Linked DNA regions of Homo sapiens: region 1 is linked to region 2. The links come from fine-mapping of genetic effects on gene expression. A gene starts in region 2. The other region holds a variant in brackets. All regions are shown on one strand. Distances are from middle to middle.

What was found. PIP is the estimated chance that this variant, and not a neighbour inherited with it, causes the effect.
Region 1: its variant is the best candidate, but not a certain one, in a credible set for the expression of TRUB1 in whole blood (INTERVAL, PIP 0.73).

Annotation. Positions count from the first base shown.
Region 1 is chr10:114,957,690-114,962,085 of GRCh38, forward strand. It overlaps TRUB1 (TruB pseudouridine synthase family member 1), which reads left to right. Exons shown (of 8, transcript NM_139169.5): 4 at 2,037-2,118. Among named protein-coding and RNA genes, the nearest start is that of TRUB1, 22 kb to the left of the region's middle. The variant G/A (reference allele first, on the strand shown) is at 2,095.
Region 2 is chr10:114,936,258-114,940,653 of GRCh38, forward strand. TRUB1 (TruB pseudouridine synthase family member 1) reads left to right here and starts at 1,938. Exons shown (of 8, transcript NM_139169.5): 1 at 1,938-2,282. The coding sequence starts at 1,997. RefSeq lists an enhancer at 1,770-2,309.

The DNA.
Region 1 (4,396 bases), 21 kb after region 2:
AAAACACCAAGAGTCCAGAGACTAGAATGGGCATTGCATACTTGGGAAACATGTTAAGGTTCCTAGTTCAAACTCGTTGCAGAGCAGAATACTGCAGATACATTCAAGGCATAGTCTGCAAGATTGCACCATGGTTTTCTTATGCAACTAAACAGACTCTAAAGACAAAAAAATCATAAAGCATTTTGATGCTTTGCTTTCCTTATGGGAGCTGACTGTAACCAGATGAGTCAACTCTAGCCACTGTTAACTGCGAATCATTCTGTATTTTCTTTCTTAGAAAATAAAGATGATGATGGTATTATTATCTGTTATTTACCAGGGCTAGATATTGTTACTCTAAACTCTTTGCTTCTTCTCATGAGGCATTATTGTTTTCCACATTTTAAGATAAGGAAATTAAGCTCCAGCCGGAAAGACTAACTTGGTCTACAAATTGTGGTACAGTCAGAATTCAAATCCAGCCAGTTGACCCTGAGCCTGTGCTGTTACCATTGTTGTACTTCTCTCATACTTCCCCCTGTGGTATGCTTAGTCGAGGTTGATTGTCCCAAAATATAGAAGCAGGAATGGGTGTCTCAGGTGATGAGACTGTGTTTAGTTACAAAAAACTAATTTTTGTCAATACCTATGAAACTTTAAAAAAATTAATTGAAATGCGTTGGAATATTCCCTTCTGTATTATATTTATTTTTAAAAAATCTGAGCTAGATAATATTAAGGTGATTTCATCGAAGGGCCTTAAGCTGTTATAAAATGTCTGCATACTTACAAGGTTTTGAAGTTTTAATATTTTTCTCATTTTTGTCTTGGGTCCCTTCACTAGCCTCATAAATTTGTCATGAATAAGCTTATATTTCTGCAAAGTACTTTGAGTTTTCTTTTATAAAATTGCTCACATAAATACAGATTATTTTCAGTGGGAAATAAAGTTCTTGCACTTTTTTCACTACTTCATGTGATGCCCCAAATAAAATTTGCGTTTGACCAAAGTGAAAAGAGTACGTACTACAAGTGTGTCCTAAGATGAGAAATAAGACAATCCTCACGTAACTAAGAATGATCTAATTCTTCACTTGTGAATAAAGATCAGTTCTTAGAAACGATTCTTGTTCCTGAGATCTTAAGTAGTAATTTATCTTTATTAAGAAAACACATGGCCGGGCGTGGTGGCTCACGCCTGTAATCCTAGCACTTTGGCTTTGGGAGGCCGAGGTGGGTGGATCACCTGAGGTCAGAAGTTCGAGACCAGCCTGACAACATGGTGAAACCCCATCTCTACTAAAAATACAAAAAATTAGCCGGGCGTGGTGGCGGGTGCCTGTAATCCCAGCTACTCCACAGGGTGAGGCAGGAGAATCGCTTGAACCCGGGGGACGGAGGTTGCAGTGAGCCGAGATCGCACCACTGCACTGCAGCCTGGGCAGCGAGCAAAACTCCATCTCAAACAAACAAACAAACAAAAAACACATTTAATAGTTAAGTCACTAATTCTGTGACTATACTGGTTTTGCTCTTTTTCTACAGATTTAGCTTTTGTTTAATACATGACCTAGTTACTAAGAATTGTCTTAGTATTTCATGTAAGAAGTACTAAGTTGGCTTATTTAAAATTAATTTTAATTGTATATGTGGGAAGATTATTGAATCTTATGATGACCATGGAGTCAAGGCTATTGTACCATTCTCTCTACTCATGGATAGACTTGAACATTTTCCTTAAACAAACTTCTCAGTATAAAGGTGGTTTGAGAAATTTGCTTACAATAATAATGGTCATAATTATTAAGCCATAATTATCAATAAAATCAGGTTTATCTTTCTCATATTGGCTAGTGTGAGACGTTTGTTAATGTTCTTCAGTTTACACAATTGCTTTCCACATATTAAAAACAAAACAATTGCAGTCTGTTGTTTTAGCCTGTATTTTGTATCAGGTTGGTAGTAGTAGTGAAATTCTGTGTAAACTTCAAGACATGCATAACAGTTTTTGTTTGCCTCACGGCCCATTTTCTCTCTTGTTTCCCTTCCTCTAGAGATATACTGCCATTGGAGAACTGGGGAAAGCTACTGATACACTAGATTCTACGGGGA[G/A]GGTAACAGAAGAAAAACCTTACGGTATGAAGCTCATCTAATGTAGGCCTCTTTTCTAACATTTAGGAAAAGTTTCTGTGCAGGTAGCATTTTAAAACAAATCTCTGATATTATCAGCCATTTTAATTCTCAGTGTGTTTCTTTGGGCTAAGAAGATTGGAAATTGTTTATCGCATTGTTGCTTACTTGATAGGAGTTTTTGAATAAAGATTTATTGTGATTGCCTCTTTTTCTATAGTGATGTTTTAAGTGTTCAGAATTATTCTTCCAAATAACCTCCTTGCAAAAGCATGTATGGCTAGGATTTAGGTTATTTTCCCTAGTAAACGAGAAACAAAGCAGAGATACTCTGTTAGATTTCATCTGTCTTGCCATTAAAAAAAAATATATTACCTGTCAGCTGTTGAAATAAATGTACCAGGTTTAGTACTTTAAAACTTGTCATGTTTTTGTGCTTTCGGACTATGTAAAAAGAGGACAGAGGGCAAGCTATTTCTCTGGAAGTAAACCAGAACTCACTGGGGCCCACCTTAAGTTTCCTACTATCCCTTCTTTCACTACCGTAAGGAAGAATAGATAAATTAAATGGTCTCCTAGCAACTCTCACAGTGCTTATGCTGTTTATAATGCAGCAATTGCAGTTTTCTAAGTCAGTTCACCTGCATCATTATGTCACCAATTTGTGGACTGTTTTTTTGTTTAGTGTTATCTCTTAGTCATAGGCAAGCCAGCATTTGGCCCCCTTATATTTTTGTGTTGATTATCCTTATTACGTACTGCATATTGCCCCAGTAGTGAGGCCAACCTTTTTATTGTTCATAATAGCTTCATTTTTTCTGTTAACATTTATATGTAGCTTAGTATCTTGCTCAATTAATCAAGCAACATAATGAAAAGAAAAATTACTGATTGATTTCAAGGCTTTTCAAAAACAGATGTTGAAATATTCTTGGAATTATTATTATTAATAAATAATAGCAGACCCTCACTTAACTGAAAGCCAGCTATAACCTTCAACCAGAAGACTTTAAGATTAAGGAGGCATAGGGCAATAGGAGGACGTCAGAGACTTCCAGAGGATACTAAAGTATTTATAAGTACTTATGTAATTAAGTCTCCTGTATCTCTGACTCCATTTACCAAACCATAATAAGGAGAATGATTATTATTCAGAACAGTAGTCCTGGGGTAATATAATTAAGGCTGGGGGGTGTGGGTACCACGTGGTGAAAAATATAAGGCGCACTAGAGTAGACAAATCTGGGTTTAATTTCTAGCTCTGCCCTTATCTAGCTGCGCAAATTTGAAATTTTCTTAGTCTCTTTATGTTGTAGTTTTTCCATCTCCAAAATGACAATAATGATAGCAACCTCATAGTGTGATTATGAGGATTGATTGGAGGAGAATGAATTTGGAGGTCTCATAGACAAGTCATGAGGCTCTTATAGTAGTCCAAGCAGAGATGATGGTAAGTTGGACCAGGGTGCCAGTGGTAGAGACAGAGTTTTCCTATTAGAAAAATTTCCCATGATTAGGAAGTAAAATTAGCAAGACTTGATTTTTAGTTGATTGGACAGGATAGCGAGGAAGTTGTCAACCATGACCTAGGTTTTGGGGTTTTAAAATTGGTTACATGATAGTGTAATTCATTGAGGATGCTGGAAGGGGCCCAGGGTGACAAAAATACTTAAACATATCCTTTCTTCCTATTCTTAAGCATTTTAGTATTTTAAAAAGCTCTATGCTGTATTAGGTAATTTGTAACCTTATTTACTTACCTTAAAGAAAGCTCAGTTTGTTAAATCATCTCATTGTAATGATGCAGTAAATCATAGAGAAACTAAGAACGTTTTTCAGGCTGTGAAGAGAAGAGCTTCCTACAGTTTATTGAATAGTATTTATAGTCCCGGAAAATGAGAGCTCAGAGAATTTTGCTGATTGGCATGATTTTTCTGTGTGCTTTCAGTAAATCAACAAATATTTTTTATTTGTTGAAGCTGCTATAGCAGGTACCAAGGGAAAGATAGATAAATGTAAGACCTAGCTTGTGTCCTTAAGGAACTTACTGTCTAATGGAGAACTCTGACCAATATTCTCAGCCTTCTGAGACCTAATACAGAGACCTATGACCAATATCTTATAATGCCTTCTTTACTATCCTGAAATAAAATTCAGAGATACTTGAATTTACTTATACATTGAGAAAAATCAATATGATGTAGTAAATGGAATATAAGTAAGAAATAAAAGTAATTTATAATAAAGTAGGTGCATTCATATGTAAGCACACAGATATTAGCAG
Region 2 (4,396 bases):
GGTGCCACATGCCTGTAATCCCACCTACTCAGGAGTCTGAGGCAGGAGAATCATTTGAACCCGGGAGGCGGAGGTTGCAGTGAGCTGAGATTGTGCCACTGCACTCCAGCCTGGGCAACAAGAGTGAAACTCTGTCTCAAAAAAAAAAAAAAAAAAAAAAAAGACACAAGTGAGTAGCATAAAAGAAGGATGTGCAGCTAGAGACAGAGAACTTTCTAGGTTCTGAATAGTGTGTCAGTGTATTTCTGATAAATCTTCTCCCCCTGTGCCCCCAAGCTGGTATGAATCAGTTTTCTGTTGACCAAAGAGCCCAAACTCATACATGTATTGGAGCAAAAAAAACCTGTGAATTCAAGGCCTGCCCAATGTGGGAGATGTTGATTACCTTAGAAAAACAAAGCTTGGTGCTTCTGATCCCAAGAATGCCGATATAATAGCAGAGTAGCATTAATTTTGTTGTGTCCTAGCATCCCAGAAATCAAACATGCAAGAAATATACATTTCTTCATTTTCTTTAAATCAGATTAACTCTGGTCCTACACTGGGCTGATGGAAAATTCAAATATAAGCATCATATGTTACCCCTAGTTCTGTTCTCCCTCTGCATCCCTCACCCCCAGAGCCACAAGAGAAATAGGGAGGCTTGCTGATGTCCGGACAATTGGGAAAAGGCCTCTAATCTCCAAGTGCCTTGGAGTCATCCAAGTCATCATTGATCAAGCCTTGCAACCTTCCCTGCAAGTCCCTGGCTCTCTGCTTCCATGGCACAAGAATAGAGAACTCTTTCCTGAGGCTAATGGACACCATGCTCCTTTGGGTGCAGTCATCCCTTCTGAAGTCACAACATCTTTGTGGAAAAATTAACATCTTGAAGCAGGGCCAGGTGTCCACTAATCCTGTGATATGCCAATCTTTTCAGTTAGCTTAGGCTTTTATAATAGACCACAAGAGTAAGTGACTTCCTTCTAGGAGTTTCAGCTTTCCACCCTGAAAAAACTCCCTCAAAGATTTTTTTTTCCTTTTAATAAATTGTTCTGCCATGTGTCTGTTGCACGAATGGGTGCAAGTTCAAATGGGACCCCATAACTGGTGATTGTGAGCAGCTAAGGGGCATCACTAAAATACTAGATATTAAAGTCCAAGAGTATGATGAGGACAAAGAGTGGTTGTAAAGAAACCTAAAAAACAATGAGGGCAAACTTTATCTGTCTCACAATAGTTATGATAGCATTTAATGTTTCTGGTGCAGAAGTAATTTTTCTCCACTCTGCCTTGTGCTGGAATCAAAACAATATTCCTCAATCTTGTTAGGGAGTGAATAACTTTTAGGGAGAAGGTCTCAAATGGGAAGTGGTTTAAAGTTTATGAATTGCAAGAATACCTTTTGATATCTAAACAAAGTGTACTAAGGAATTCAACCCACAGAAGAGCTGATATTCAAAATCAGAATTATTAAAAATTGTAGTGGGGTCAGTGGGGGTTTGGGGAGGGTGAACAGGAGTGCATGAAGAGCATCAAAATAAGCACAAGTGATTTACCATTGGCTTGGTTTCTTCGGGGAATTTGAAGAATTCATACTTATTTATACGTTTTCAAATATTTATTTAAGTGCCTACAACATGTGAGGCATTTGGGAATGTCTCAGTTAACGTGGTACATAAGTTCCTTGCTCTAATAGAGCTCACATTTGGATGTCTTCTAATTCTGAACCTGAATGTAAGAGCACAATACAATCAATGAAGCAGTGAGCCCAGGAAGCCATGGATCTTCACAAGCCTCAGGAAAAGTCAACATTTAAAATTTTCTATTTAAAGTCCAAGGGCACAGCAAGCTCTTGGTCTATATGGGAAGGCCATGGACTACAATTCCCACAAGTCCGTGCGACCTCTCCGTTCTGCGCAGCTTCGCGGTATGAGGAAGAGGGTCCTGTCAGGCGCACTCTTGTTGCATCATCAGCGTGCACCTCCACGATGAAACAGGTCTGGGCTACAAAAGTATGGCCGCTTCTGAGGCGGCGGTGGTGTCTTCGCCGTCTTTGAAAACAGACACATCCCCTGTCCTTGAAACTGCAGGAACGGTCGCAGCAATGGCTGCGACCCCGTCAGCAAGGGCTGCAGCCGCGGTGGTTGCGGCCGCGGCCAGGACCGGATCCGAAGCCAGGGTCTCCAAGGCCGCTTTGGCTACCAAGCTGCTGTCCTTGAGCGGCGTGTTCGCCGTGCACAAGCCCAAAGGGCCCACTTCAGCCGAGCTGCTGAATCGGTTGAAGGAGAAGCTGCTGGCAGGTACTGCAGCCCGGGTGGGGACCAGGCTGAGGCGGTCGCTGCGAGAGGGGAAGCACATTAGGCTTTTTGCGACGCTCGTGATTCAAGAGACAAAAGGAGGGGAAAGGGAGACTGACCATTGAATTAGCTCTGGACAGGAATCTCGGGCATCTCGGGCTTGGACTTGCCCTGGCACGAACTCTTGTAGCCTACTTGGCAGTTGTAGTTCTCAACGGGAGGAAAAAAATCCCGTACTTACACAATAAAACCCTGCCCTTGGGCGTGCAGACCTGTTTTCTGTAATCTGATCGATCCCTCAGGAGGCTTTTGTTGGGTTCATGTGGATGAACCCCAAAAGGAAGTACTGGTTCTGCACCCCTAAAGTTGCATTCCTCAAAATGTATTGGAAATGCAGATATACTTCGTTAACCAAGACTTAATATAGTCGTTTTCACATTTTAATGGGCCTAACAATTACTTAGAGTCTCTTGTACAAATACAGATTCCTAATCCCTGCCCTGTCCGAGATTGTGATTCGGAGAGTTCGGGGTATTTTTAGGAAACTGCAATTCTAAATAGTTGCTCCAGGTGATTCCAGTGTAAGTAGTTTATGGACCACATTTGAGGAACACTAAATATAACTTGGCCACTAAGCTGAGAGTGTTCATTTTATTGATTCGTTTATTCACGTACACTGGGAAAATAGTAGAAAAGCCTAGAGAATCACCCCGTTAATCAGCTCGGATGATTTCACACATAAAGCATCCAGGATCCTTAAGTTCATTGGACATATACAATAAGCCAGGTCTGTGCTAGCCTATAGAGACTTGAAGATGAAAGATAACTCTCTTACCTTAACTGAGCTGATAGCCTAGTAATTTCTGCACCTTGTGGTGGTAAAACTAGTTAGTTAGGTTATTCAAGGCCCTCCAGAGTTTGGCCGTATTCTGTCTCGCCATTAAACCAGTAACAGGGACTTTCTTACATTGTTTAGTGTCCCATGGAAAACTTTACACTTTAAAAAAATGCAAAAACAAATTATTCTGATGGGAATTATAACTGACAGTACAGATTTAAGTGTTTATGGGCAAATAGGTACACTCCTGCAGATGTTTAATTCCAGTATCACGACTACTTATTCTTTTATTAAAGTTTTGCTTTGTTGCCTGAAAGTATGGGTCATACAGAGGACGTCAAAGTGAGGAATTGCATCAAGGATATGTATTGTGGTATCATCATAGTTTTTTAGTTTTCCTTCATAGAACTGCTGCTTTCCTGATTTGTTAGCTAAACTCTGGGTTTCTTTTCTTTTTTTTTTTTTTTTATCCTTAAGGTAATGATTACCATTCTTTCAGACAAGTTTCTGACAAAGCCATATTCTGGCCTTCTGGCTAATCTGCCTCTAAGAACTGAAGTTTCTTGTTGAATCTTGGTTAAAATGTTTCAAGGCTCTTGCTAGGCTAGAACCTTTAGCTAGAGACATTCTCATTATCCTCGATTTCTATATTGCTTGTGATTGGCCTATTTTGTATTTATGTTAGTTAGGCTAGGGCTTTCCAAATGTCATTGTAATTGGCTGTCAGAATTGCTTGGGAAGTTTTTGTTTTTGTTTTTGTTTTTGAGATGGAGTTTCGCTGTTGTTGCCCAGGCTGGAGTGCAATGGCAAGATCTCGGCTCACTGCAACCTTCCCCTCCTGGGTTCAAGTGATTCTCCTGCCTCAGCCTCCCAAGTAGCTGGGATTACAGGCATGCACCACCATGCCCAGCTAATTTTGTATTTTTGGTAGAGACGGGGTTTCTCCATGTTGGTCAGGCTGGGCTCGAACTCCCGACCTCAGGTGATCTGCCCGCCTCAGCCTCCCAAAATGCTGGGATTACAGGCATGAGCCACCACTCCCGGCCTTGGGAAGGTTCTTAAAGATACCTACATTCTAATGCCATGTTTGACAACCATGATCAGTGGTTGTGTCCTCTAATACCATTCCTTGTCTTTCTTTGCATTGATTCCTATTATGCTACAATCTCTACTGTTTGTCTGTTGGGATCCTTCAAAGCCCTAAGTGTACCAGAATTTTATAGCTAGAAAATAATAAAAATCCACGAATACTTAGTTCAGTGGGGTGAACCAAATTCCC